Linked DNA regions of Homo sapiens: region 1 is linked to region 2. The links come from fine-mapping of genetic effects on gene expression. A gene starts in region 2. The other region holds a variant in brackets. All regions are shown on one strand. Distances are from middle to middle.

Region 1 (2,912 bases), 130 kb after region 2:
ACACTGACAATTATAAATGTGTATTTCTATTAATACAACTTTGATAAATGGACAAAGGGCCAACAGAATGAGAAGTATAAAGTGACAGATGTCTTCTGAAAAGTAATGGTAGCCAGTTGAATAATGAAAACAGTAAATTTTAAGAAGACTAGGGAGTACAATGTAATAATTTTAAAAAGAAGGCGAATTTAAATTCACTTCCAAGTGACACTCTCCAAGATGAATTATCTGTCCTACGTTAAATGTTCCAGAAGACCTTCAGGAACACAACTAGAAATGGAAAATTTCAAGATAAGTTGTATAGCAGCATTTCCCCAAAGTACTTTTGCATAGTTGGTTTTAAAGGTTAACAGGCATTACATGTAAATAAAAGGGTAGTGAAGACAATTTGGGAAATCCTAGGGTTCATAAAATTAGATTCTTTTGTGTAGGACTCATTAGCACCTTTAATGAGCATACTCCAGGTGAGTAGGAGTGGAGGCAGAATGCAGAGTGCACCATTTCATAGACTTGTTTGCTTGAGACCACAGAACTGTTTGTCTTGGTTCTTGTTAGGGAAATAGCCTCTGCAGAATACACTTTGGGCAACATTGGAATGTTACTTGGAGGTGTCCGTGAGCAGGCGTGAGGTGTGAATGTTGTGGCTGTGGGTGGGTATGCAGCTCGAGGAGTAATACGTTAAACGTTTCACAGTCAGGGATGATGGGAAATCTTCTGGAACCGTACATATTTTATTTTCATTTTTCCCTTCTTCCCATATTTTGCTTTTGAATAAAAATTCATAAAAATAAATTCACTAAAATTAACTTTGTTTTTAATATCATAAATACGCTGTGTAGGGAAGAAGTCAAACTTGAGAATCTGCATTTGATTTGCTTTTAATCTGGAAGGATAACAAATACAGCATGTAGCTCTTGGCTGGTTTTAAGGAACTGACAGAAGATTATATTTGCAATTAAGTATAACCTGGTGGTATTCTTCACATACTTGTCTCCCACACATTCTTTAGCACCACTACTCATGTCAACATTGCCAACAAACTATACAAGATGACCAGATCCAGTGGCCATTTTATGTCCTTAGTTTACTGGACCTCTTTGCACCATCCAGCTCAGTTGTCTGTTACCTCCCTCAAACATTCTTCTCTCTCCATTTCTGTGACATTGCACTCAGCTGTTTTCTTCCTCCTCTCTGGCTGTTACTTTGTAGTTTGTTTTGTATGTTCATCTTCCTCTGCTGACTTCTGAATGTTTTATACTGAGGGCTCAGTTTTGGATCTTCTTTTCTTCTATGTTTTCTTCCGAGGTATGCCCTTTAGTCTTGTGGCTCTCTCTGCATACCAACTGCATGGTGATAACTCCCAAATCTATTTTCTTCAGCCAAAAACTAACCATTGGTTTCAAATCACAGATACCTAACT[G/C]CTGTACACTTAAATGTTGTCTCACACATATGTCAAGCTTAATGTCTCCAAACAAAATTTTTAGTACTCCTCTTCACTTTCCAACTTACTCATTTTTTAAAAAATTATGCTCATTAAAATTTGTGTGTGGGTACATAGTAGGTATATACATTTATGGGGTACATGAGATATGTTGATACAGGTATACAGTGCATAATAATCACATCAGGGTAAATGGGTTTCTATCACGCCACTCATTCTTTTCTTTCTGTTAATGGTGCTGCCATCCACCAAGAGTTTTCAATCTCTATTTTTTCTACTTTGACCCACCCTGCCACCACTGTCATGTCATCTAGGCCACCAAAATCTCTAACTTGCATTACTATAATTTCCTTTTGCCTGAACTCCCCTTCTTACCTTCCCTTAGTCTTTTTTTTTTTTTTTTTTTTTTTTGAGACAGTTCGCTCTTTGGCCCAGACTGGAGTGCAGTGGTGCGATCTTGGCTCACTGCAACCTCTGTCTTCCAGTTTCAAGCGATTCTCCTGGCTCAGCTGGCACCTGCCAACATGCCTGGCTAATTTTTCTATTTTTAGTAGAGATGGGGTTTCACCATGTTGGCCAGGCTGGTCTCAAACTCCTGACCTCGTGATCCACCCGCCTTGGCCTCCCAAAGTGCTGGGATTACAGGGGTGAGCCACCGCACCCAGCCCCCTTAGTGTTTTTCTATAGAGCAGTCATTTTTTTTTATGTAAACCTAATCATGACACCTATTTTAATAATAGCTTTCCATTATACATGGAATTTTGAATTAGATGTATAATGAAATATACGCTGCTTATCATGGCCTTAGAGGACCTTCACAGTCTGGCCTTTTCCAGTCTTCCTTACCTCATGTTGTACCTGATCCTCCCTTGCTCACTATATTCCAGCCACAATAGCCTATTTTCAGCCCCTTAAATATGTCTTTATATATGCCATTGCTTTTATTGGAAGCTGCTTCCAGCTTATCCTTTGCATGGCTGGGCTCCTTCTCATTGTTCAATCCTAACTGTCGTCTCCTTAGGGAGGTCTTCACCACTGTCCAAAGTAGGTTTATGCGCCCATTTCCCTGCTGTCCTTTATTTCAGAGCACTAGTCACAATTTATGTTTACTTACAACCTCTGACTGTAAACCCCTGAAAGCAGAAACCATGTTTCTTTTACTCACCAATGTATAATCAGTGTATAGCAAAGTGCCCTATATTTCTTTCGTTGAATGAACTCAGAAAATGAAGTGACTGAATGGATTCTGAGCTAAAAACATCTCCAGATGGTTTAGATTTGTTTTTAAAGGAATCTCGCTTTTTTAATGTAATGTATAGATATTATAATTAAAGGAAGTCATATCATCTAGAGAAGGCAGATGTTTTTGGTACAGTCTCCATTTAGTATCTGGTCCTTAGCTTTGGTGAGGCCATTCATGCTAAGTCAATTCAAAAGATAGTGGTTTATAAAAAATACAATGCTGATTTAA
Region 2 (2,912 bases):
CAGTTCCAGGTTTTTGGTTCTCTTAAGAAACTGGAACCTCTGGGCACAGTGTGTGTGCCTATCTTCTTTTGTGGAAAAGTAGGCTGGAGCTGAGAATTGGCTGCTCTCTTTACACAGGCTCTACAGTTTGCCATTCCCTACCACTCCTGAATGTTTTACACCCATATTTATTTTGTTGCTTCACCCTGCAGTCGGGAGACTCCTGCAGTTTATGAAATTGATACAACAGGGCTTTTTTTTTTTTTTTTTTTTTTGGTAGGGGGTGCAAATCTCTTTGATTTGAGGGGAACGCAGTGGTCGCTTTTGCTTCCAAACAGCCTTAAATCTGCCCGTTTTTCAACGATCTGACCTTACTTTTTCAGGGTGGCCAAAAGCACAAAATTATGAATCAAAGAATGGTCCCCAATTACCACGAGCCAGCTGTGTGACCTTGGGCGACTCCGTTAAGTTCTTTTAGCCAAGAGTGATGAATGGTCTGCAAAACGACCTTAATACCTGTTCTGAATACCCCCACATGGCTGTGGTACAGCAGGCGTGAGATGTTTAAAGTACTCCTAAGTAATTTATAAACTGCAAAACGCTTCCCAGCACAAGCGTCCGCTACAGAGCGCGACGACACCGAGCCGGTTTAGAAGTCCAGTTACTGGAATCCACTCCAGTTCCGTCCTGCTCCCACCTCCTACGCTCAGGGTGGGCGAGCGGAAGGAGACTCTCAAGGGAGAAGGCCTGGAAAACTGGCTAAGAAACGAAGCGAGAAGTTCCTCAGCAGGGGTAAAGTTGTTGGCGGCATTTTTAAGCCCCTAGAGTGGCACAGCGACTCCCGGTCGAGATGACGGACCCCGGTGCGTGACCAGCGCGGGAGCCAGTCCCGGGCCACCTCCCTGCTTGAAGTCGGGCCTGGCCAGTACCCTCCCGGCGCAACCCCGGACCCGGGACCCCCGACTTTGCCCTAGTCCCCAACCCCCACAATCACCTCCCTTGGTCCCCCTCCACGTGACAAGAGCCGGAACCGTCACTTCCGGCGGCGCGGGCAGCGCGCCTGCGCGGGTCGCCCGGCCTCAGTGAGCGGTTGGCAGCAGCGCCCCCCCCCCCCCCCCGCCAACGGCCACGAGTGGCGGGCGGCGCGGGTTCGGCCGGGGCGGCGGCGGCGCGACGGGCTGCGGTCCTGCGGGTTTGTGGCCTGAGACGTCTAGCCCACTCCCTGGAGGGGCCGGCCGCCCAGCCTCTTTCGCTCTCTTCCTCTACCCCGGCTCGCGCTCCAGGCGCTTAGTGAGGCGGCGGGACGCCCGGGGCACTGGCGGAGGCGGCGGCGTCGCCCCTGGATTCGGACCCGCCCCCTCGCGCCCCGCCCCGTCCCCGCCCTCCCCACCGCCCTCTGCGGGAGCCGGGCAGCTGCAGCGGAGCCGCGGAGCGGGCGGCGGGGCCCAGGCTGTGCGCTTGGGGAGCGCGGAATGTGAGGCTTGGCGGGCCGCAGCACGCTCGGACGGGCCAGGGGCGGCGACCCCTCGCGGACGCCCGGCTGCGCGCCGGGCCGGGGACTTGCCCTTGCACGCTCCCTGCGCCCTCCAGCTCGCCGGCGGGACCATGAAGAAGTTCTCTCGGATGCCCAAGTCGGAGGGCGGCAGCGGCGGCGGAGCGGCGGGTGGCGGGGCTGGCGGGGCCGGGGCCGGGGCCGGCTGCGGCTCCGGCGGCTCGTCCGTGGGGGTCCGGGTGTTCGCGGTCGGCCGCCACCAGGTCACCCTGGAAGAGTCGCTGGCCGAAGGTACGGGCGCCCGGGGAGGCTCGGACAGGCAGGTGAGGGAGGGTTGGGGTGTGGCGGCGGCTTCTCCGGGTCCTCGCCCTCCGGACTGACTCTTATACCCCATTCTTCCTCTGCTGCCGGGCCAGCGGGGGCTCCTAAAGAGTGGCTCGGGCTTTCTCTCTTAAGCTGGCTTTTCTTGCCGCTGGCTGCCCCGGCCGGTGCACAGTTCTCTCATGCCTAGTTTAAATCATTTTCTGTGCTTTTTGACGCGAGAAAATAGGTAGTAGACGGGCTAGGAAGTGGGTTGGTGTTACGATTGGGCCAGTGACTCATTAGAGGGTCAGATCGAACAGGGTTGAAGCTCCGTTCTGCCAGCTGTGGCTCAGACGGGTGTCATGCGTTGGCCTTTTCATCTAAGCCTCCACCCGCGCTGCAGGGCATAGGACCCTGCAGCCCCTGGTGTCAAGCTGGGCTTTGCTGCAGCTCAGTCATCTGTTGAAAAACAATGTATTTGTGTGCATGTGTGCGTGTTGGAGGTGATCCTTTGCTCTAAATTCAGTTAGTAGGTTGCACTGAGGAGCAGGTAAACTTGGAGCCCATTTATCTTTGTTATTTAGAATCTTCTCTGTTGGACAAGGTGCTATTCATGCCCTCCCAGTATGTCTCTTTGATAGTAGTTTAAAAGGTGATATAAAAGCAGGTTAACTTTCACTTAACGAGGTTTTGTGGTCGGTCCTTCATGATCTGGAACAGGTTATGACGGCAGGTAGAAGTCTACTTACAAAAAAAGTTTACTCCATTTTAAAAGAAGAACTTAGAATTTAGTTTTGTATTTCTGGCATAATTGCCTTGTAGAAAATACTTGCCCTGTGTGCTGCATGCTTCATTGGCCTTTGAGTTTTTAGTTGCAAAATGATACTACAAAATAAACACTTTAAAAGAAATACTTTTTGTTGATAAATGGCCCTTTTAAGTTCTATGGTTAAGATAAAAAAAATCGAAGAGTGGATTCAGTTCTCCGAGCGTTAGACGTTGATGTGGTTTGAAAACAGTAGACTGAGATTCCGCTTGTATTTTTTGAAATGCTATACACAACAGTAAATTAGCACAAGGGAAAAAACCTGAAGATTTTTGTATAAAATATTTGAAAGAGAAAGAAATCGTGAATTAT

Which allele goes with the higher level. Positions count from the first base shown, and alleles are read on the strand shown. Sizes are in standard deviations (SD) of each study's normalised expression.
In carriers of allele C in region 1, the expression in tibial artery of the gene that starts at base 1,391 in region 2 tends to be lower than with G alone (small effect, 0.30 SD a copy in GTEx).

What was found. PIP is the estimated chance that this variant, and not a neighbour inherited with it, causes the effect.
Region 1: its variant is fine-mapped to the expression of BMP2K in tibial artery (GTEx, PIP 0.91).

What each region holds. Positions count from the first base shown.
Region 1 is chr4:78,907,228-78,910,139 of GRCh38, forward strand. All of the region lies in intron 15 of BMP2K (BMP2 inducible kinase), which reads left to right. It also overlaps a transcript of PAQR3 not described here. Among named protein-coding and RNA genes, the nearest start is that of PAQR3, 31 kb to the right of the region's middle. The variant G/C (reference allele first, on the strand shown) is at 1,421.
Region 2 is chr4:78,774,960-78,777,871 of GRCh38, forward strand. It overlaps BMP2K (BMP2 inducible kinase), which reads left to right and starts at 1,391. Exons shown (of 16, transcript NM_198892.2): 1 at 1,391-1,762. The coding sequence starts at 1,585. BMP2K-DT (BMP2K divergent transcript) reads right to left here and starts at 1,011. Exons shown (of 1, transcript NR_186689.1): 1 at 1-1,011. RefSeq lists enhancers at 627-1,257, 1,890-2,520 and silencers at 724-973, 1,064-1,733, 2,095-2,295.